2 separate regions of the Homo sapiens genome follow, and region 2 is linked to region 1. Evidence: fine-mapped expression QTL. A gene starts in region 1. The other region holds a variant in brackets. All regions are shown on one strand. Distances are between the middles of the regions.

What was found. PIP is the estimated chance that this variant, and not a neighbour inherited with it, causes the effect.
Region 2: its variant is fine-mapped to the expression of SMIM1 in whole blood (INTERVAL, PIP above 0.99).

What each region holds. Positions count from the first base shown.
Region 1 is chr1:3,769,050-3,780,893 of GRCh38, forward strand. It overlaps SMIM1 (small integral membrane protein 1 (Vel blood group)), which reads left to right and starts at 3,700. Exons shown (of 4, transcript NM_001288583.2): 1 at 3,700-3,739; 2 at 4,014-4,132; 3 at 6,250-6,434; 4 at 6,746-6,907. The coding sequence starts at 6,325. The coding sequence ends at 6,872. It overlaps CCDC27 (coiled-coil domain containing 27), which reads left to right. Exons shown (of 12, transcript NM_152492.3): 11 at 734-838; 12 at 2,352-2,596. The coding sequence ends at 2,474. It overlaps LRRC47 (leucine rich repeat containing 47), which reads right to left. Exons shown (of 7, transcript NM_020710.3): 7 at 9,510-11,844. RefSeq lists enhancers at 2,083-2,761, 4,048-4,563, 4,564-5,079, 5,819-5,963, 6,112-6,627 and 1 more, a silencer at 3,107-3,986 and cis regulatory regions at 5,907-5,923, 5,915.
Region 2 is chr1:3,855,617-3,867,492 of GRCh38, forward strand. CEP104 (centrosomal protein 104) reads right to left here and starts at 1,595. Exons shown (of 22, transcript NM_014704.4): 1 at 1,273-1,595. It overlaps DFFB (DNA fragmentation factor subunit beta), which reads left to right and starts at 1,860. Exons shown (of 7, transcript NM_004402.4): 1 at 1,860-2,101; 2 at 3,102-3,228; 3 at 10,196-10,384. The coding sequence starts at 1,988. RefSeq lists silencers at 1,262-1,761, 2,692-2,741 and an enhancer at 1,902-2,081. The variant C/T (reference allele first, on the strand shown) is at 5,430.

The sequences.
Region 1 (11,844 bases):
CACCTCTGCGTCGTCAGGGTTTCTGGACGAGGAACTCGTGCTGAGCGTGCCGCATAACTCAAGGGGTTCCTGTCTGAGGCTCCTGGGGTGCAGATTGGAGGGGTTTCCTCTGCAGCTTCCTGGGAGGCACGATTAGCTACCTCTGGGGAGGCGGCTGCGGGTGTACAGGCAGACAAGGATCTTCATGGCAGCAGAAGACGAGAACGCCTTCTGGGTCTGTGCGCGGGGGCCAGGTTCAACGCTGCTGTCCATGGCACAGACACCTCCTAGTCAGCATGGAAAGGAGGAAGCACCAGCAGCGCACTGTTAAATGCCTAAAGTGAGAGTGTCCCCAAGGGCCAGGAAGTCCGCTCACTGCAGCTCCCCTGGGCAGTGGAGGATGGTCCAGGGGTTACGTGCGGCTTCTGTACTATTTTGGTTTGTTGGTTTAAAAATATATATATATGTGTGTGTAGGTTTTACTTTCCAATTAGAAAAGCCCACCTGGTGTAGGAGAGTCTTTGGGCTTTGGGGCTGGGCCGCACAGGGTCAGGGGTTGGATCCGGCACCTCCTAGCTCTCAGACAATCCACATTGACTTCTCTGACACCTGTTTCCAGTTTCTAAAGCCATGAAAAGTGAGGGTGAGCTGTTCCTTCCTGGTACATAAAAAATAAGGTGGTGGGGGGTGCAGCCCACTGGCCAGGTGCCTTCTTGGGTAAAGGCGAATGATAGTGTTGTCCCTTTGCTCACAGCTCGAGAGGTTAAGGAATAAGATCATCCAGGCCACCTTTAGCATCTCCGGGACCAAGTCCTTGGCCAACGAGATCTCTGACAATGACATCCTGGAAGCCCTGCAGGTATACCCCTAAGCTCAGCTGCCTCTATCCGGGCCCCAGACCCCCAGGCCAGAGCTGTGGTAGGGGGTTGTGGGGGGCCTAGATTCCAGGGACTCTGTTCTCATCCTACCTGTGTCACCTATTCACTTGGACCCCAGGACCCTCCTTTCTCTCAGCTCAGGCAGAGGGGATCAAATCATCCTAAGGCAGGTGGGGGCATGGCACGGGAGTCTTAGCTACTCTCAGCAAAACGGGGGACGGGCATCAGAGACCAGCAGTAACTGCCACAACCCATCCTGAGCGCTGTGGAGAGGGGACAAGCCGCTCAGGGCACGAAGATTCTCCCACAGCAGGAGCCCAGCCCCGGCTTTGTCCAGCTTGGTCCCCTCCGCTGGTATCACCACCCACTGATCCAGGGCCCTGGTGCAGACCCCTCCCACCCCGGCCACAGCCTCCTGGGCTCCTTCCTGACCAGGGGTCCCCAAGCAAGGGCCTCGGAGAAGTAGAGGGGTGTAGGAGAATTCAGGCCTTGGGGTCACTGGGCATGAGGGGGTCACCACCCACCAGCTGGGGGCCACACACTCACTTTTCTGAGCCATAGATGCCTCCCTCTGTGATGGACAGCGCATGCTCACCTGCAAGGTGTCGTAAGACTCAGAGCTCTGGGAGCCGGGCACCGGCTATGGCTCTGTGTGGGGCTGTGTACTACGAAGGGGTCACCTCTCACCAGGAGCTGCTTTTGTTCCCAAGACCCACACTTCACCCTCTGGGGCTGCCCTTGAACCCCAGTGTGTGCCCCTGACCTTCCAGCACCCACGTTCCTGGGGCCTGGTTCCCTTCCTCTGCAGAGTGGGGGGCCCTGGACAGTGCCTCTCCTGCAGAGCTGTAATGTGGAGAGAGGTCTCTGCGGCCTTGGTACTGTTGTCTGGGGGAGGGGAGGAGGAAGGGGAGAGAAAGAGGAAGAGAAGAGGGAAGACAGAGGATGGAGGGAGTTATTCCCACCGCACAGTAGCCAGGGAAGAGCACCTTTGCTTGCTTGCCATAGCCTGACATGAACCAGCAACGGCCCAGAGAGGAGAATGGAAGAGAGGTGGGGACAACATTCCCTCTGTACAGGACAGAAGGGACTTGAGGGACAGATGTGACGACCTCAAAGATCTCTAGGAGTCTGGGGCTCCTCACAACTCTAAGAGGGCTGAAGAGGGGGCTTAGTGCAGGCTTCTGCGGGCTGGTGGTGTGCACCTGCCCCCGGCTCCGCATTCTGTGACTTCACTTCCGTGGCTGAAAATCAGCCACTGTGGGAATATTCCCACCACAGAAACTGGCAACGCCACAAAGCCGAGGGTTGTTTGTTTTTTCTCCCCCTGGAGAGCCGGTTGTAAGTATTCACCAGCACACCCCTGCTGCAGCAAGCCTCTCTGGAGGAGGAGGAGAGGGTGGCGTCCCGGGCAGCTGGCACGGACTGTGCAGACCGGCCTCAAGGCCAAGGTGAGGAACTGGGAAGGCCACCTCGACGGCTGTGTTTCTTGTGTAGAGAATTATCTCAGAGAGAAGCGACTACTATAATCAGCTGAAGCAGAAAGGCGTCAAAGTGCCCCCCCTGCAACAGTCAGAGGCCTTCCTGACCAGCAAATCCAAGAAGGGGACCTCCAAGTAGGCCCAGCCAGGCCCCCAAATACGGTCAGCCCAGCAGAGGCCGGGGCCCAGCTCCAGAACCACCCGCCCCCACCATGCGTCCTGCTCTCAGACTCAGAATTAAACCCCGGTGTTGGCACTGTCCCACCTTTTTCTTCTCTGGGATCCACGCGGGGGCCTACTCTCCTCTGCGACCTTGAGCTACAAGGACACTCCCCATTCCAAAGCTCACTCACAGGGAGTCAGCACACCAGCCTGTGCCCCTAGCTCCTAACAGGTCCCCTTGCGGCACCAGGCTGCCAGAGGCCTGAGCCGGGGTGTCCGCCCAGCACTCAGCACAGACCTCACGCCTGAGCAGAAGGGGTCTGTGACCTTCTGCCCTGGGGGCTCTCCTGGCTGGGGCACTCTCTTGCTGGAGGACCCCTCTGGAAGATGGTGAGGGTGGGGGGCTCTGTTCCCATCCCCCCGCTCCTGGAAGGAAAGCTTTACGCACGGGAACGGTGTCTGTGGTCCCCGACGCTTCCCCGGCGCCTCTGAGGCTCTGGGCGCCTGAACACCTTCGGAAGGGACTCTCCCCATTACCCTTCTCTGCTCCCCACCCACACCTGCTTCCCTTCCCGCCGCGAGCACCGAGCGTGGGCCACGTGCGGGCGCCACGCCCCTCAAGCCCCGGAGGAGGACGGTCCCCGCGGCCGGGTCCCCGAACCCAGCATTCAGGCCCAGACGCGCCCAGAGCCTCCCGCAGTCTCGTCGGCGCTGCAGCCGGGTCCCCGCGGGGCTGGGAGGCTCGTGGCGTCGGAGGGGCTCCAGCAGGGGTGAAGGAGGTCGGGGACCCTGGAGGCCCCAAGGGCGAGCCGTCTGGGGGCAGAAAGTGCAGCCCTCTGCAGACCCTGCCCGGCCCCCCTGCACCTCCTGGCCCCGGGGCTGGGCGGCCTAGAGCCCCGGCCCCTTCCGGACGAGGCGTCTCCCGGCCCCACTCGCCCCGCCCCCAGCCCCTTCTGGACCAGGCGCCTCCCCGCTGCGGCCCTAGCCCTTCCCCGCATGGCCCCGCCCCCCTCTCGCCCCGCCCCCTCTCGCCCCGCCCCCGGCCCCTTCTGGACCAGGCGCCTCCCCGCTACTGGCCCCAGACCTTCCCCGCATGGCCCCGCCCACCACTCTAGCCCCGCCACCTTCCGGACCAGACACCTCCCCGCTGCTGGCTCCAGCCCTTCCCCGCGTGGCCCCGCCCCCGCCCTCGCCCCCTGCCCAGGCCCGGCCCCTGCGGAGCCCAGAGACGCGGGGACACAGGTGAGGCGCGCGGGGTCCGGGCTGCGGCTTCCCGGTGCGGCCGCAGTGGGCAGGTGCGACTGTGCGCGGCCTCGCTGGCTGAGAACTGGCGGGGGTGGGGGCGTGCCCTGGACTGACCCCCACCGGCCTAACCCGCGGTGCGGGGCCAGGGCCGGAACTGCCCGCCCGGCTCCTTGCCCGGCTCCTTGTGGCTGCTGGGGACCCCCGACACCAGCCACTTTCCCTTCCCGGCCCTTAGCAAGATCGGCTTCTCCGGTCACCTTTATTTTTTTAGGCTCGAGGCGTCTGCCGCACCTCAGCCCACGACCTGCCCCGCTGGGAGGTGCGGGCCGCTGGCCAGGCCCTGACCGCAACCTGGCCCAGAGGCCCCAGCCCTCAGGCAAGGTTCTCCGGGTAAGTGTGGGGCCCTGAGGCGCTGTGGGGTGAAGAGGTCTATGGAGGGGCGCCTGTGTACCTAGGGCCTTCCTGCACTCACAAGCCCCCAGGAGGTGCCAGGATCCGGGAGCCTCCCAGGGCCTGGAGGGGAGTCCCTGATGGGTTCCTGCCGCCACACCTGTGACCATCACATGAGTGTGGAGAGACGTTTACTGAGCAAGTGAGGGAGGCCAGCCTCAAGGGCCGGCTCTGGTGGCTGTGCACCGGGGTGACTTGGGAACAACGTGTTCTACGTCAGCAAGACAGGAACCCATGATCCCAGAGTTGAACACACTGGGCTTGACCCCTCCCACCGGGAGGCCCATGGTGGGCTGCTGCTGTGGACTTGGAGCCTCAGCACTCCCGAGACTAATGCTGCGTGGATGTCGGGTTGCAAGGCGGCTGCTGCAGCTCCAGCAGCTCCAGCCATCACGTCGAGTCTGGAAGAAGGAGGTGGCTGCTGCTGCTTTCACAGAAGCAAACTCTCCCATCCCCTGCTGCACCCTGGCTCCTGGACCCCAGCTGGGTGACTTGGGAAAGCAGGGGTGGTGGTATTAAGCTTGTCTTACCCGGGTCATGGCTGTTACCTGGGGCTGGCACATTGCTGCTGGGACCAGAATGGGATTCTGCACACCAGGCAAGAGGGCGTGAACCTCGGGTAGGCAGCTGACCGCTCCACATGCTCCGGGAAAACAGCACCCATACTCCAGTAGAGGCTGGGCCTCTCCGGGCCTGAGTGCCAGGCTGCACTGAGCCAGGGCTCCCACCGAAGGCACACTTTATGGCTTTGAGACAGCTCCTTCTGCCTCTCTGGGCTTTGGGGGAAGGCAGACATGGAAGTGCCGGGAGTCTCAGAACTGCCTGGGGCCTGAGTTTCTGAGCTGGCTTCTTGCAGGGGAGTGGCTGCTGTGCCTTTAGGCCTCTGTGCCGATGACCTGGGAGGAAGGTCAGCCTTCCCCGCTGGAGGGGGCCCAGCAAAGCCTCAGCTCCTAGAAGTGAGGGGCCTGCCATTGCCTGCCCGAGGACCCCACTCCTGGGGGCCAGATGCTGAGAGGGGACACTGGGGGCCCAGCAGACCAGAGAGCTGACCCCAGTCCCACAGCCTGGGTGGGTTGTCAACTTCTCGTGCCCCCTCCAACTCCTCCACCCCCACACCCCCTTAGGTAAATAGGAGGTCGAAACAGAGGCCAGAGGGTAAAGGAGGTGCTTAGAGTCCGGGCTGGCTCAGGCCGGCCGGGCAGCTGTGCTAGTGCTTGGAGTTCCTGCTCAGTCCCCGTGGTCTCCTCGCCCCTCTGGGCACTTGGGCTGCCAGGCACCGAGCTGAGTGCCGAGATGCAAAGATGAGTCCCAGGTCTGCAGGAGTTGGAGCCCAGCAGGGAGCTGGCCTTGGGGCCGGGCCCCTCCTGCTCTGGGCAGCCACCCAGCCCTACGACCCTCCTGTCTCTGTAGGGCCTCCCCAAGGCCTTGAATCCACCCCGGCCCCGTGCTCAGTGCATCATGCCCCCCAAGCCCCAGCCCTCCTAGAGGTGTGGGTGGGGGAGGGGCTGCAACCCACACAGGCTGAGGACACAGCTGCTGCCACTGCCTGGGGCCAGCCACGCATCCTCCCCAGACAGGGACCGGTCTAGCTGTACCAGCCGCTGCCCCGGACCTGCTGCCCTGCCCCACCCCCCCCTCCCCTGGCCAGCCTCCCCAGAGGCCAGAAGGCGCCTTATCGGGCAGGGTTAAGGAGGGGGACAGTTATCAGGGGCTGCAGCCTAGATTGGGCCACAATGTCCTCGTCTCTTGAGGGTGGCAGGCTGTGCAGGCTCCCTGATAAAAGCACCGGGGAAGGGAGGCTCCTGGAGTGTGCTGGAAGGAAACACTGGCCTCCCACATGCCTGAGGTCAGGGCTTGGCCTGAGATGGAATTCTCGCTTGGTCCCATCCTCCCGGCCTGACCCTGGGCAAATGACTCTACCACTTTGTGTCTAGGTCACCTGTTAAGTCAGGCGACAGACCCGGTGAGGGAGTCAGCCCCCGACCCTTAGTGCCCCTCTCCTAACAGCAGCCTCAGAGGGGGTCTTGACTGCCGCCCTCCATCCGCTTGTTTTACAGTGAAGCCACAGCCTGGCCACCTGTCTTGATCTCCCCACCGAGAAGGCCCCGCCCCTCCCGCTGCAGCCCCACAGCATGCAGCCCCAGGAGAGCCACGTCCACTATAGTAGGTGGGAGGACGGCAGCAGGGACGGAGTCAGCCTAGGGGCTGTGTCCAGCACAGAAGAGGCCTCACGCTGCCGCAGGTGAGGGGCCTGAGGGCAGCCTGCCAGCCATAGCAGGCTGGTGTCTCCCTCCAGAGACGCCTGCCCTAACCCCTGCTACCGGCCCCATCACCCTCCACCCCATCCTGGCTGGGAGCCCACGGTCCAGCAGCTCAGCAAACCGCAGCCTTTGGCCTTCCCTCTGGTTGGCTGTGGGCGGGGAGAGCTTCCTCTTGACTCCAGCAGAGCGCCCAGGCCCCTCCCCCTGACCCAGACCAACGGCCACAGTCCACTTAGGGGGCCCCTCATGCGGCCCTGGCCTGGGGCTCACCTCCAGTTGGTTCTCACCCCAGGATCTCCCAGAGGCTGTGCACGGGCAAGCTGGGCATCGCCATGAAGGTGCTGGGCGGCGTGGCCCTCTTCTGGATCATCTTCATCCTGGGCTACCTCACAGGCTACTATGTGCACAAGTGCAAATAAATGCTGCCCCGCATGCACGCGGGGGGCTGGCCGCACACGTGAGAGCACAGGCCTGGAGACACACCCCTTGTACACATGGACCCCCCCACAGACACGGACCCTGCGGCACACACAGCGCACAGGGCACACGCGCTGGCAGCCAGGCACACGAAGACACCAGGTGCACAGCTGTCATCGGCCCCACACGGGGGCGCACAAACACCTGGCACACAGCCCTTCAAAGGACCTACAAACAGCTGGGCACACGTGGCTGGGAGGCCTGGGCCCAGCCTCAGCAGGAGCTGCAGGACACACCCAGGCTGGGCCCTGCGGCCTGGAGCCCCCAGCTACAGCCTCCTCTCTCCCAGGGCCCAGCCCCTTCCCTTGTGAAGGCCAGGATGAGGGGTTCCTTCAGCGGACAAACCGAGCCCACCTCCCTGGCAGCCCCCCGGGGTGGGATCCTCCCGGCTGCTTTCCTCCGTGGGAGCAGTGTGCAGAGCTGTGTGGCCCTGGGCAGGCCCCTGTCCTCTCTGGGCCTTTCTGACTCCTGGTTTTGTAAGGGTGGCTATGTGTCCCCCGCCCTTGTCTCAGATGCACCATATCTTCCTTAGTAAGTGGGCACAGTTCTTCCTAGGCAGCCCACCACGCGCAGAGGCTGGGTGTGTCCCTCTTGGGGCCGGCGGCTGCCAGGGAGGACCCGGGTCTACCCTCCCTCCCCAGGGATGGGCCTGGTCCCTCCAAGTACTCCTTGTGGGCCAAGAGCCTGTGTACAGAGGCATTAAGTGTCTGTTGAATGAACGGTGGATGACAGCCCTTGCCATAGTTACCTGGCCAGGCGTGACATCCAGGAAGGCTGTGGGAAGGGCTTGTTTCCCCGGGGCAGGCCCCCCTCCCATGTGGCTCTAGGAATGCACCCCTACCAATTGGGCCCTCTGGCGAGGACAGCCGGCAGGCCTGGGGACCCGGATGTGGCTGGACCTCAGCTGTGTCCCAGGGACTTCGGTCCCATTCCCCCCACCCCGATCCTGGCCTCCAGTCCCAGCCCCCGGTCCCAACCTCCATTCTCTTGGTAGGTGCTTTCCTGGGTCTTGTGTTTGGCCCTCACCTACCACAAAAGATCCCAAAAAGCCTTGCCAGAAACATCCCCTTAGGGAAGGGGTCCTCACCCCAGGGCTGGGGGTGGGAGACACGGGCAGCCACTATCCTCACGGGCACAGAGAAGGGAGGCCACAGGGCCAGATGAGGTTATTGGAGGGCTGAGGCTGCGCCTGCCCCAGGCCAGGTCCCGCCGAAAGCATCAAGTCAGGTAAACAGGAGGGGCTGCGCCAGTCTTGGTAGGGAGGCAGACTCCACATCATCCGCCTTTGGGGCGAGCAGGCTCACTTGAGATCTGCCTGGGCCAGCCGGTGGCAGGTGGAGCTGCATGGCTGATTGCACACTGCCCCAAGGCTCCTGGCTCCAAACCCAAGGAGGGAGCCCAAGGGCCTGTCCTGGGCTGCGGTCTGAAGCAATGATGCTTTCCTGGGAGCCTGTTGTTGGGTGGGCTGCTGCCTGCCCCAGCCCCATGACAGCCTGGATCTTCAAAAAGAGATCCCTACCTCTGACCTGCCACTCCCAAGGAGGGAAAGGAGTAGCCAGCTGGTACCCTCCCTGAAGCCCAGCTTCACAGGACAGCACTGCCTTGGGGCTGCTGTAAGGAAGTGGCAGAGGCCGCTGGGCCCAGCAGTTTGGCTGCATGGGCCCCAGAAGGCAGCACTCCGACCTGGGGGTCCTGGGGCTGGGCCTCCCCAAGAACTGGTGCGGCCCAGGAGACAGGCGAGGGCACAGGATGGGGATGGGAGCTGTCCCAGTTCTACAGTCAGAGGGGAAGTGGCCCTGGTGCTTCTGCCACGGGTCCCGCATGCCAGTGATGCCCACGCACCCCCACAAATGCTCCTTCCCACCTGTCAGGGGCTGGCATCAGATGGCACAGGCGCATGTCGGGTCTGCCCTGGATCTGTCTGGCTGCATCTGGGTCCGCCCTGGCAGGGGCCCAGCATCTTCAGCCAGGGGCTCCACCAGCAGCCCTGCCAGCCCCAGCAGGGGAGGCTACAGGCAGACACCCACGGGTGCTCATTGGGCCAGGCACTCAAGTAACCCACAGCCGCCTCTCGGGCACACCACTTGTCCCCTAAGTGACCATGGTGGAGACAGCAGCTCCAGCCCCAGTACCCCCAGGGTCATGGACCTAGGCTGAGCTGAGCAGTGTCCTTACAGCTCTGGGAGGGTTGGGGAGAGGATGGGACAGGACCCTGCTGAGTGGCCGCCTGGCCTACCCTCCCAGAGACTCACGAACAGGAGGATCTGCTGTGGATGCGTCTGGGGCCTGGGCTCCTCTGACTGTGCACCTGGGGTATCCAGGCAGCCCGACACCTCTGGTCCACCTTGTGCTCCAGGCAGGGGCCCAGCAGGGTGAGGCCAGTTCCCAGGACCCCTGGTCAAGGGCACCAGCTTCCCCATGACAGTGGCAGGTGCCTCTTGCTCCCTGCTGGCAAGATCTGGGTGGGGACAGGAGGCCCTCAGCCTCCCCACATAGAAGCCACCACTGGGCTAGAGTGAGCTTTGTGACACTTCGAGCAACAACCTCTGGCAGTGCCGGTGGGAAAGGATCTGCTGGGCCAGGTGCGGAGCTGTTTTTATTAGTGAGTCGGGGGGTGGGGTGGGGTGAAGAAAACATCAGAGACACCTGTGCTGCGAGTTAAATACATTTCCAGCATCTCACGCATCACAAGCTGCATCAGGAAAGGGCACAGCATGTGGCAGCCTCATCCACACCCACGCAGTGACAGATGTGTTACAGCATGGACACCAAGTCCCCGGGAGCCAAGATGGCAGCTCCAGCATCCCTCCCTTCCTCCCTTCCTCCTTCCCGGGCTGGGCCGGGCCATGCAGAGAAAGGGCAGCCTCTGCCATGGCAGCCCCAAATCACCTCTCAGAGCAACTGTCTGGGGTCCCCAGCCCCAGAACTCCAGCAGAGTCCTGGCCTGGGGAAGCCCCCGTGCCGCCTCAAGCCTCCAGCAGGGCAGGCCCCTGGCCAACTGTGGCATCTGCCTTGACTGCCCAGAGCAGCAGGAATCAGGTTTTGGGAGGACACAAGGCAAGGCAGTCATCTGACACACCCACGGCAGTCCAGCTGGCACTGAGTGTGTGGGCCTCGTCCTGTCTGGAGTCCCCTCCCTCCCACAGTGGGCGAGACGGGAAGGCCTGGCGGTGACCAGACAAGTGGGTCCAGGTCTCAAGGCAGCCTGGCCCATGTCCTGCAAGGCTCTGAAGAGCCACCCAGCTGTTAGTCTGCCCACTGCACAGGGCCCCGGGCCTCTCAGGTTGACAACTAAAGGTGTGTGGGCTGTGGGGCTCTTGCAGATGCTTCCCAAAATCACCAGTCATTTCTACAGACACAGAAATCGAGACACTGAACAGAGAACAAATGGTGTCATTCGATAAAGCTGATGAGTCTGCTTCTCACATGGCACCCAGATCGTAAGGCAGTGGGGTCTGTAAAATCATCGCGGTGGCTGGCCGTGTCCTCATGAGCCAAGCACACTGACTCCCGGGAGTGGTGTGCACGCACATGTGGTGCCTGGACATACACGAAGACACATGGACGTGGGGGTCTGACCTGGACATTCACAACGGAAACGTCTACAACAGAAGGCGCCCAGGACCCACCTTTCTGGCGCATAAATGAAGATTTTTGGCTCAAAAACCTAAGCATCCTCCAGCTTTTGCTACCATCTGTCCCTCGGCTGGCTGAGGACTGCCGATGCTTCCCAAGCAGAGGCGTCTGGTCCACTCCTGGGGCTCCACCTGCCTGTCACTGCAGCACCAGCGTGCACACGATGGAAACCCCACCGATGCCGCTCTCCTCCGCTTGGCCCCGCTGAGCCAGGGTGAGGTGCTGCCACTGCCTTCAGCCTACAGGCTGCTTGCCTGAAGGGGTCTCCACATCTCCACCCCCACAAAGCAATCCAACAGCAGTATGAAGAGACGCAATTCTGCCAATTCTAAGGTCACATTAAAACTTTTCCCCCCAAGATTATGATCACTGCCAGCTGGAGAACCCAACGCCCTTGCACATGCCAAGCTGCATCCTGGCATGATATGGTTTTACAAGATGCTGCGTCATAGAAAGTGACCGTGCCGTTCAAGGAAACGCACATCGGTTGGCTTCCCAAGTTTTCGGGTCTCCGAACCAGTGACAGTCACGTGTCGCTCAGTGACACATGAGAAACGTGTGCTTAGCCGCTGCTGTGTGATCACAGAGTCTTTACACAAGCCTCGATGGTGCATGTAGTTTTATTTATGTGTTTTCATCTGGAAAACCAAGTGTCCCAGCAGCATGACTGAACATCACTCACTTCCCCTACTTGATCTACAAGGCCAACGACGAGAGCCCAGACCAGGATTCCAAACACACTGCACGAGAATATTGTGGATCCGCTGTCAGGTAAGTGTCCGTCACTGACCCAGACGCTGTTACGTGGCACATGACTGTACAGTGCCACGTAACAGCACTGTACTTTTCTCCCATAAACAGTTACCTGCCATGTATCTACATGATTCAGAACATTTTGAACAGTTAATTCTGACACTTGAATAATCCCATCAAAAACCGTAAAATCACTTTGATGTTGTAACGACAACATAGCATCACTTTACGACAGAATCATCTGGAAAAACAGAACAACGAATACATACATCTTAAAAAATGCTGGGGTGGGCCAGGCACAGCTCACGCCTGTAATCCCAGCACTTTGGGAGGCTGAGGCGGGTGGATCACGTAATCCCAGCACTTTGAGGGGCAGAGGTGGACAGATCATGAGGTCAAGAGATCAAGACCATCCTGGTCAAAATGGTGAAACCCCGTCTCTACTAAAAATACAAAAATTAGCTGAGCTTAGTGGCACACACCTGTAGTCCCAGCTACTTGGGAGGCTGAGGCAGGAGAATCGCT
Region 2 (11,876 bases), 87 kb after region 1:
AAATGCACAGGGACTGTGGAGGCAATGCTATTACCTCAGTCTGGTATTTGAAAAGGATTCCTTTTTTAGTCTACCCCCTCCCAAAGACCTTCCAGTTGTACCCTAGGGTCCCCTCTGTGTAAACCTTCAAGTGTTACATAAGATACTTGGAATGTCACTGAAGGATGCCACTTTTAGGCTCTATAAAAATCACCATTAACAATTTGGGAAGAAGCAAAGCTCTGTTGAACATCCAGTTATTGGCTGGTCTTCCTCACCAGAGGCATGAGGGATCCCTGTTGTCCCAGGGGCAGCCATCGACATCCCGACAAATGCCAGAGTACATCTCTCCCCAGGCAGCGATGACTCCATGGCGGTCTCATCCCTCACTACACTTTTCCTAGTGCTGGCATGGTAAAAGGCAATTAACTATAAATTAAACGGAAACTCAGTGTAGCAACTTCCATTTTGTTACAAGACTAGGAAACAAAACTTGTCTCTGATTTTCTTTTTAAGAAGACTTTTAAGTGTGACTGCGCGCGGTGGCTCATGCCTGTAATCCCAGCACTTCGGGAGGCCGAGGAGGGCGTATTACTTGAGGTCAGGAGTTCGAGACCAGCCTGGCCAACATGGTGAAACCCCGTCTCTACTAAAAATAAAAAAATTAGTCGGGCTACTCGGGAGGCTGAGGCAGGAGAATCGCTTGAACCCGGGAGGCGGAGGCTGCAGTGAGCTGAGATCGTGCCATTGCACTCCAGCCTGGGCGACAGAGCGAGACCGTCTCAAAGGCTTATGGGTTTCTGATCAAGTCATCTTAGCGACTGAAAGGGCTTCAGAGAAATCTGAACTTAAGTGCAAACAAAACAAAACAAACTCCAAAACAAAAAACAACCAACCATCAGACTTTAATCTCTATAGGGACAGAGCAATTTTCCTCAAACTTTTGCTCAGCAGAACACATCTGAAACTGGCCCCCTATGTGCTACGCATCCAGAAGAGGAAAAGCCGGATCTGAAAACAATATTCCACGCTAAATGGGCCGTCCCGGCCGGGGCAGGCGGTCCCAGCACCCGTGCTGAGCTCCCCGGCATACGGCACGACGGGGCCGCGCCGGCTCTTCGGCGACAGCAAGGCCGGCATCTAACTCCACACCGTCCGCGCTTGCACCGCGCACCCAGGCTTCGTACCCAGCTCCCAGGTGGGGACCGCGCCCCCGCGGCGCCCGCGCCCCGCGCCCCGCGCCCCGCTCCCCACTCCGGCCCTGGGCCGGCGCCGCAGCGGCCCGGAAGGTACCTGCTTAGAGGGAAGGGCCCCGACTGGCGCTGCCGCGGCCCCGGTGGAGAGGGCGGCTGGGTCGGAGCGGTGCCGCGGCCCGGGGAGGCGGCCAGGCGGCGCCTCAGCACCCGGACCCCAGGGGCGTGCGGGACCCGGCTCTCGTGGACTTCCTCGGCAGCCGCCGCTTCCTCAGACGGAACTCGGGGGGCGCCCCTTCCGCCGCCCCAGGCCGCCTTGCACCCCAAGCTGCTGCGGCAGTGACAGGGAAGAAGCAGACCCGGCCACCTCTGCCCATAGCCCCGGCCGCAGCCTCCACTCTCATGACAACCAAGCCCAGCCCTGGGCCAGGGCCTCTGCGCGTGCGCGACCCCGCCCCACCCCAGGCCGCGCCTGCGCACAAGGGGAGGGCTCCGCTACTCTGGCCCTCAGGGTTGTGTAGTTTCCGGGGCCACGGCACCTGGGCACACCAGGTGGCGTCGCGCCTTTGCTTTCCTGAGCCTTCTGAGTAAGGTAATGTGGTGTCCGTGGGGCGACGCCTGCGCACAAGACCGCGTCGGGCCTCACTTTTCCCAGGCCTTCTGGGTAATGTAGTTTCCGGGATCGGCACCCGGCCTGTGCCAGCTTGCAGAGCTCACCAGGTGCAGACCCCTGCGGCCAGGGCGAGGACGGATCTGAGCAGCTGGGCAGCAGGTGCCACCGCCTGTGGGACCCAGAGGGCTTGAGGACATCTGCAATGCTCCAGAAGCCCAAGAGCGTGAAGCTGCGGGCCCTGCGCAGCCCGAGGAAGTTCGGCGTGGCTGGCCGGAGCTGCCAGGAGGTGCTGCGCAAGGGCTGTCTCCGCTTCCAGGTGCCCGCTGGGCTAGGCGGGGACGGCCCGTCGGGGAGGCGTGTGGGGAGAATAGGAGGTGCCGCTTTTCCTCTTCCAAAACGGAGGGTGCAGGCGGCGCCCGGGGCGGGTAGTTTTCGTTCGCCTCAGCCGCTAGGACCCCGGGCCCCCGCAGCCTGGGGTTCCTGAGCGTGGCTTCAGAACGCAGGGGGGTTGGGGGACGACCTGGATCACCCCTTCCCTCTTCCCACCTCTCGGGCAGGACAGCCCTGCATCAGAGCTAGGAGACCCGGGTAGAGTGCCAGGTACTGGCACGCGGGGTCACGGCTGCTCTGCCTGTCCGGCCTCAGCTTCCCCTTGAGTAACATGAAAGGCTTGGCTAGGTGGGCTCTGCAGGCCCCTTCCAGCCCTCGCAGCTGGGGATTGCAATCGTCACCTTATTCTAGGTTGGTTTTCTTTTTAGACCAGTACTAGGGTTACCAGGTGTGCATTGCCGGGGTCGGTGCGGGTGGGGTGGGAGTAGCCATAAAATGCCTAAAACTGACCAGTGCAGAGTAACAGGGAACCGGACTCCAACAAATTAACAGTGCCACGTGCCGGTCACACTTGTGCACAGAGGCAACCAACCGTTCTCCTTCGTGTGCCAGCACCGCTCTGGCGGCTGTGTGCTGGGGATGGTGGTGTTCAGCTCCTGGCAGCAGGGAGGCGGCGCTGTCAAAGACAGGCTCTATTTGAAGCGCCCTCAGGAGCTCATTTAAAAAGGGTGAATCCTGCAGAGCCAGCAGTCACCCCCTGATGTATGTTTTTCCTGACTCTTCGTATTTTAGAACGGCCCGCAGTCAGGCGCCCTTGCTCCCGCTCCCTCATCCTTGCCTGGGCGTTGGAGCGACTGTGGCATACAGGCGGCAGCCTGAGCCTGCTTCTTTAAGCACAGCTCATTCCGGTCGTTTGTGAGGCCTGCAGATGCAAAGCCCTCGTCTTGAGACCCTTCCTCCTCCTGTTGCTTCTCCCGTCCCTGCAGCTCCCTGAGCGCGGTTCCCGGCTGTGCCTGTACGAGGATGGCACGGAGCTGACGGAAGATTACTTCCCCAGTGTTCCCGACAACGCCGAGCTGGTGCTGCTCACCTTGGGCCAGGCCTGGCAGGGCTGTGAGTGGCAAGGACTTTGGAGGTGGGCGGGAAGCTGGCACTCTCCGAGGTCCTGGGGGCTTAGCTCCAGGTGCCCATCAGGGTGGGGAAGAGTCCCCCTTACTGTGAACTCTCGGGTCTCAAGGAGGAAGCCCTCTGGAGGCAGAACTGGTCAGCGTCGCTTAGGTGGCAGAGTCCTCAGTCCTCTCGTTCATGAACCCAGCTGTTCAATTGGTCGTCTTTTTCTTCAAAAAATCTTTTAATTTTATTTGCGTTCATTTGAGGTGTCCTAGCAATTCCCAAGAGCAGAGGGAGGGCTTTGGGGTTGGGGCCTGCACAGTTTCATGGGGAAGGTGGAGCCAGGAAGAGATGCTGTTCTGTTCTGCTGGGCTGAGCACCCTTCTGGAAGGACGAGGTGGTGGTTCGTGGGATGCTCTCACATTGTTCTCGGTTGGTGTTTGCTAAGATGCTGTCCTCAGGGCTCAAGTTTGGGGGCAATTGCTTTGAGAGGTGGTTCTTTCGGGGCATCTGTATTGAAGCCTCAGGACACAAAGTCCTGCCTTTCAGAACCAGCCGAATGCCAAGGTCTGCGCTTGTTTGACTCCCGTAAAAGAGAGCTTTTGGCCACTGGGGCAGGAGATGCCATCATGTGCCTTTACCTGGGAGGGTCGGCCAGTGTTGTGCAAATGGGGTCAGGCTCCAGGAGATGCTTCTGGCAGCCCAGGAAGGACATGGGTGCTCTGAGGGATGGAGCTGTGGCTCCTTGGCCTAAGGGGCAAAAAGAGAGAAGTCGAAGAGTAACATCCATGTGGCCACCTCCCCGGCTACAGTGTTGGGGGCTCCACTGTCAGCATTGAGGGGTGACGCCTCTGGTGTGTGCTCCAAGGTTGCAAACCCCCTTTCTCCACTGGGCCTTGTGCTTTTAGAGGAGGCAGCTGGAAAATGTATCACTGTGATGCCCCCTGGGGTGGCCCCTGCAGGAGGTGGGGGCTGGGCAGGGGTATGCTCAGGGTATGCCTCACCTTTGGATGTTATCTTTCTTTCCCATTTCAGGGCATAGTTGAAAGACAGCAGAGCACGTTGCTCTCTCTCTGTCTCTCCCTGCATCTCGCAGTCTCTGTCTCTCTCCTCTGTCTCTGTCTCTGGCTCTCTCTGTCTGTCTCTGTCTCTCTCTCTCTCTGTCCTTCCTTTCTCTGGCGCTTTATCCTCCTCTCTTCGCTGAGACCGCTAGTCCTCCTCCTTGTTAGACTTAAAAAAAATTTTTTTTCTTTTCTTTTATGAAAACATTGAGATGGGGTCTCCCTCTGTTGCACAGGCTGGCCTCAAACTCCTGGGCTCAAGAAGTCCTCCTACTTTGGCTTCCCAAAGTGCTGGGATTACAGGCATGAGCCACTGTGCCTGGCCAAAATATTTTTGTTTTATTTATATTTTGAAACTTTGTTGCCCAGGCTGGAGTGCAGTGGCACAAACCTTGCTCACTGTAGCCTCGACCTCCGTGTTTCAAGTGATCCCGTTGCCTCAGCCTCCCAAGTATCTGGGACCACAGGCATGCATTACCACGTCTGGCTAATTGTTTTGTATTTTTTGTAGAGATAGGGTTTCGCCATGTTTCCCAGGATAGTCTCACACTCCTGGGCTCAAGCTGTCCTCCTGCCTTGGTCTCCTAAAGTGCTGGGATTACAGGTATGAGCCACTGTGCCTGGCCTAAACCGTTTATTTAGAAATAATGACAGATTCCCAGGAAGTTGCACAGATAGGAAGGTCCAATGTACCTCTACCCTTTCCCTCAAAGGCAACATCAGATACAACCGTGGTACAATATAAAACAGGAACACCGACACTAGTGCAATGTGCATGTTGTTCTGTCATTTCTCCCCATGTAGATTCCTGTGACCAGCATCAGGGTCAAGGTACAGCCCTCTCCCATCCATCACTCAAGGTTCTCCCCTTTATAATCCTGCCTACCCCTGCCCACCAGCAATCCCTAGCCCGTAGCAACTGCTGATATGTTCTCCATGTCTATAATTTTGTCATTTAAAGAATATTAGGGGCCAGGTGCGGTGGCTTACACCTGTAATCCCAGCACTTTGGGAGGCCGAGGTGGGTGGATCACCTGAGATCAGGAGTTCAAGACCAGCCTGGGCAACATGGTGAAACCCCGTCTCTACTAAAAATACAAAAATTAGCTGGGCATGGTGGCGGGCGCTTGTAATCTCGCTACT[C/T]AGGAGGCTGAGGCAGGAGAATCGCTTGAGCCCAGCAGGTGGAGGTTGCAGTGAGCTGAGATTGTGCCATTGCACTCTAGCCTGGGTGACAGGCTGAGACTCCATCTCAAAAAAAAAAAAAAAAAGAATATTAGGTAAGTGGAATCATAAAGTATGTGACCTTTTGAGATGAGCCTTTTTCACTCCACATAAGGCTCCCGAGATGCATGTAAGTTGTGTGTATCCATAGTCCGTTCCTTTTCATTGCTGAGTAGCATTCCATGGTTTGGTTTTACCACAGTTTGTTCAACCATTCGCCTGTGGAAAGATATTTTGTTTGTTTCCAGTTTTTGACTATTACAAATGAAGCTGCTCTGGCCAATTATGTACAAGTTTTTCTTTTTTCTTTCTTGTTTTCTTTTGAGACAGGGTCTCACCCTGTCGCCCAGGCTGGAGTGCAGTGGTGCAATCATAGCTCACTCTAGCTTTCACTTCCTGGGCTCAAGCGATCCTCCTACCTCCGCCCCTGAGTAGCTGGGACTACAGGGGTGCACCACCATGCCTGGCTAATTTTTGTATTTTCTGTAGAAACAGGGCTTCATCATGTTGCCCAGGGTGGCCTATAACTCCTAGGCTCAAGCAATCTACCCGCCTTGGCCTCCCAAAGTGTTGGGATTACAGGCGTGAGCCACCGCACCTGGCCATCTTGACAGGTTTTTGCGAGATGTAGGTTTTCATGCCTCTGGGGAGAATGCCCAGGAGTACAGTGCTGCGTTGTGTGGTGTGTGTTTAGTTTCTGAAGACAAGGATGTCCACTCTTGCTGCTTCTGTTTAACATGGTACTGCAGGGTCTAGCCAGGACATTTAGGCAAGAAAAATAAAAAGCATCCAGATTGGAAAGGAAGAAGTGAAGCTATTTCTATTTGCAGATCATATGAACTTGTATGTAGAAAACCCTAAGGAATCCACTAAAAAGTGATTAGAACTAATCATCAAGTTTAGCAAGGTTGAAGGATATAAGATCATATGCAAATATAGAAATACACTTCCAACGAACAATCTGAAAATGAAGCAGAAAATCATCCCATTTACACTGGCATCAAAAAGAATAAAATACTTAGGATAAGTGTAACAAAAAATTGTAATACTTATATTCTGAAAACTGCAAAATGTTGTTGAAAGAAATTAAAGTTTTGAATAAATGGATTAACATCCCATGTTCATGGATTGGAAAACTTAACATTGTTAAGATGGTGGGACTCCCCAAACTGACCTACAAATTCAACACAATCCCTATGAAAATTCCAGCTGGTTTCATTGTAGAAATTGACATGCTGATTCTAATCCACAGTTCATATGGAATTGCAAGAGACCCAGAATAGCCAAAACGACTGTGAAAAAGAAGATAGTAGGAGGACCCACATATTCTGATTTCAAAACTTAGTACAAAGCCACAGTAATCAAGACTGACACTGGTACAAGGACAGATATATAGATCAATGGAATAGAACAGAGCACCCAGAAATCTATGTATCTGTGGTCAGGATGCCAGGACCATTCAACGGAGGGGGAAGAGTAGTATCTTCAACAGATAGTGCTGGGACAACTGTATATTCACATACAAAAGAATGAAGTTGGACTCTTAGCTGGTACCTTATACAAAAAGTACAATAAATGAAAGACCTAAATGTAAAAGTTAAAAATATAAAGCCCTTAGAAGAAAACATAGCGATAAGTCCTCATCGCCTTGGATTTGGCAAAAGATTCTTAGATTTGACACCAAAAACATGAGCAGCAGAAGAAAAAACAGATAAATTGGGCTTCATCAACATTAAGAACTCTGGCCCGGGCACGGTGGCTCAAGCCTGTAATCCCAGCACTTTGGGAGGCCGAGACGGGCAGATCACTTGAGGTCAGGAGTTGAGACAAGCCTGGCCAACATGGTGAAACCCCGTCTCTACTAAAAATACAAAAATTAGCCGGGCGTGGTGGCAGGCGCCTGTAATTCCAGCTACTCAGGAGGCTGAGGCAGGAGAATTGCTTGAACCGGGGAGGTGGAGGCTGCAGTGAACGACAGCCCACAGAATAGGACAAAATAGTTGCCAATCATGTATCTAATACGGGACTTGCATCAGAATATATAAAGAATCCTTATAACTTAATAGTAAAAAGATAACCCAATTAAACATGGGCAAAGGTTCTGAAAAGAAAGAAATGTCTCCAAGGAAGATATTCAAGTGGTCGTAAGCACAGGAAAAGGTGCTTGAGATCATCAGTCGTCAGGGAACTGCAAATCAAAACCACAGTGAGATGCTACTTCACACCCACTAGGATAACAACCAGTGTGGGCGAGGATGCAGAGCGGCTGGAACCCTCAGGCCCCATTGATGGGAAGGGAAAACGGTGCAGCTGCTGTGGAAAATAGTCTGGCAGTTTCTCAACAATTACACAGAATCGCCATGTGACCCAGCAGCTCCACTCCTAGGTATGTACCCAAGAGAAATGAAAACACGTCCACACCAAAACTCGTCCGTGAGCGTTTACAGTAGCTTTATTCATAATAGCCAAAAGGTAGAAACCACCTAAGTCTCCAATGATGAACACTTGGATCAATAGAGTGTGGCACATCCATACAATGGAAGTACTCACCATGAAGAGGAATGAAACACAGCATGGCCGAGCCTTGAAACCATGCCAAGTCAAGAAGCCTGCACATACAGTAGGGTTCCATTCATAGGAAATACCCAGAACGGGGATGTTAGAGAGATGGAAAATAGATTAGTGGTTGTTTAGGGTTGGGGGTAGGGTAGAGGGGAGGGAGGTTGGTAGCTAAAGAGTATGAGGTTTCTTTTTGAGGTGGTGAAAATGTTCTGAAATTGACTGTGGATGTGGCTGCACAACTCTGGGAATATAATAAAACCCATTGTATTGTACACTTTATTTATTTTATTTATTTTTTTTGAGATGAAGTCTTGCTCTCTCCCCAGGCTGGAGTACAGTGGCGCGATCTCGGCTCACTGCAACCTCTGCCTCCTGGGTTCAAGCGATTCTCTTGCCTCAGCCTCCCGAGTAGCTGGGGTTACAGGCATGCACCACTGCGCCCAGCTAATTTTTGTATTTTTAGTAGAGACAGGGTTTCACCATGTTGGCCAGGATGGTCGCGATCTCCTGACCTTGTGATCTGCCTGCCTCGGCCTCCGAAAGTGCTGGGATTACAGGCGTGAGCCACCGCGCCCGGCCTCTGAATTGTACACTTTAAATGGGTGAATTATAAGGAGTGTGAATTATATTTCAATAAAGCTACTTAAAATAAAGAAAAGAAACTGCCAAGTTGTGTGCTAGAGTGGCCGTCTTACCTTTCCACTGCGCAGTTTCTGTGCAGCCTCGCCAGCTTTCGGCGCTGTTGCTGTTTTTAATTTTAGCCATTCTGATTGCAGTGTGGTGATGTCTCGTTGTGCCCTTAATATGCATTTCCCTAATGGCTAACAATGCTGACTATCTGAATATCTTTTATAAAAACAGAGACAGGGTCTCACTCTGTTGCCCACGTTGGAGTGCAGTGGCAATCATGGCTCACTGCAACCCTGAACTCCTGGGCTCAAGCGATCCTCCTACCTCAGCCTCCCAAGTAACTGGGACTACAGGTGTGCACCCCCATGTGCCGCTAATTATTATGATTTTTTTTAGAGATGGGGGTCTTGCTTTTTTTTTTAGAGATGGGGTCTTGGTTGCCAGGTTGGTCTCAAACTCCTGCCCTTAAGTGATTCTCCCACCTCGGTCTCTGAAAGTGCTGGGATTACAGGCGTGAGCCACCGCGCCCAGCCCTAAATATCTTCTTATGTGCTTATTTGCCATCTGTAGATTCTCCTTGGTGAAGTGTTTCTTCCTGTCTCTTGTCCTTTTTCTAATTGGCTTATTTATCTATTTTTTTACTGTTGAGTTTTGAAAGTCACGCCTCACCCCACAAACAAAATACCTGGACATGAGTTCTTTGTCAGACATGTGGTTTGCAAATATTTACCCTGTGGCTTTTCATTCTCTTAAGAGCATTTTTTTTTTTGCGGAGTAAGAGTTTTTAGTTTTGAGGAAGCTCAGTGTGTTGATTTTCTCTTTTACGCAGTGCTTTTGATGTTAGGTCTAAGGACTTCCACCAAGTCCTCACTCCCCAGCATGTCCTCCTGTCTTCTTCTGACCCACTGATGTGATCGTGAGGCTTTTCTCATATGGTGGATCGCACTGATCGATTTGCAGGTGTGAACCAGCCTTGCGTTCCCACTTGGCCGTGGTGATATTTCTTTGTGCATGTTACTGAGTTCTCTTTGCTAACATTTTGTTAAGGTCCTGGGTAGACTTTGCTTTAACTTCCTATTAAGAGCCTGCCCGGAGAGCTCGCTGCTTTAGGGAGTTGTGAAAAGGCTCCAGGAGAGAGTAGGAAAAGTGATCGGAAGGATCTGAAAGCAAGGTCTCCAGGAAGGGCCAAAGTGGGGGGCGTATGGTTTGGAGGGGAGGAGGCCAAATGGGAAAGCGGCCGTCTCTTGGTGCGCTTTCATCTGTCCTCTAAAGCACACCCTGCCCCTCCCTCCTCTGTCCTCATGCCGCCCTTGTGCGTGGTCCCCAGCTGTTGGTGTCAGGGCAAGGACAAAGACCCGGGACACCTCAAGTCTGAGTCCTGGTGATTGCCAGGCCCTGGGGAATGGGGGAAGATGTGGTCAGAGGCTCTTCTTGTGACCGGGGCAGGATGTGTCTTCTGCTGGACCGGCACCTTTTGTTTGTCCCATTGGTGGCAGATGTGAGCGACATCAGGCGCTTCCTCAGTGCATTTCACGAGCCACAGGTGGGGCTCATCCAGGCCGCCCAGCAGCTGCTGTGTGATGAGCAGGCCCCACAGAGGCAGAGGCTGCTGGCTGACCTCCTGCACAACGTCAGCCAGAACATCGCGGCCGAGACCCGGGCTGAGGACCCGCCGTGGTTTGAAGGTGCGTGGGGGCTGCAGCTGGCAGGGGAGAGGCTTCTTTGGAGCCTGAGGTGCCAGAAGAAGTTGGATTCCAAAAAGCCCCCAGTGAAGGGCTGGCCTGTACCCTCGTGGGTTGAGGTGGGGGACTTGGAAGAAAATGTGCTCATTTCCCAGCATTTCCCAGCCTCGTGGGAAAGGTACCCAGCAAGGACTCAGGTGGGGCCAGAGTCCAGGGCAGCCCTCGGATGGGACTTTTTATATTTTTATAGATATGTTTTGAGATGGAGTCTTGCTCTGTCCCCCAGGCTGGAGTGCAGTGGCGTGATCTTGGCTCACCGCAACCTCTGCCTCCCTGCACCCTCTGCCTCCCAGGTTAAAGCGATTCTCCTGCCTCAGCCTCCCGAGTAGCTGGGATTACAGGCAAGTGCAACCACGCCCTGCCAATTTTTGTATTTTTAGTAGAGATGAGGTTTCGCCATGTTGGCCAGGCTGGTCTCAAACTTCTGATCTCAGCCTCCCAAAGTGCTAGGATTACAGGCGGGAGCCACCCCGCCTGGCCTATTATAATTATTTTAAAAATTGTGCTAAAGTACATATGACATAAAATTTACCTTCTCAATCATTTTTTTAGTGCACAGGTCATCGGCATTAGGTACAGTCACATTGTATGCGGCCATCCCCACCGTCATCTCCGGAACTCCTTCCACCTTGCAAAGCTGAACCCGTGTCCCTGTTACATCACTCCCCCTTCCCCCTCCGCCAGCCCCTGGCCACCACCATTCCGGTTTCTGTCTCTCTGATTTGATGACTCTAGGGACCTCATATGAATGCAGTCACATAGTATTTGTCCTTGTGTAACTGGCTTATTGCACTCAGCACAGTGTCCTCAAGGTTCATCCATATCGTAGCGTATATCAAAAGTTCTTTCTTTTTTTGAGACAGAGTCTTGCTCTGTTGCCCAGGCTGGAGTGCAGTGGCGCGATCTTGGCTCACTGCAAGCTCCACCTCCCGGGTTCACGCCATTCTCCAGCCTCAGCCTCCCGAGTAGCTGGGATTACAGGTGCCTGCCACCACGCCTGGCTAATTTTTTTGTATTTTCAGTAGAGACGGAGTTTCACTGTGTTAGCCAGGACGGTCTCAATCTCCTGACCTCGTGATCCGCCCGCCTCGGCCTCCCAAAGTGCTGGGATCACAGGCGTGAGCCACCACGTTCAGCCAATTTCCTTCTTTTTAAGGCCAAATGACAGTCCACTGCGTGTACATACCACGCCATCTATTCACTCCACTGCGTGTACATACCCCACTCTGTCCATTCACTCCACTGCGTGTACATGCCACGCTCCGTCTGTTCACTCCGCTGCGTGTAGATACCACACTGTCTATTCACTGACACTTGGGTTGCTTCCACCTTTTGGCCTGGCCTTGTAAGCCCATCAGAGGCGATGCTGAGAGATTGTAGCCTTTTTGGGAAAGGAGGGCTTGAGGGCCAGGCAGAAGCTCCTTGGTGGTATTTG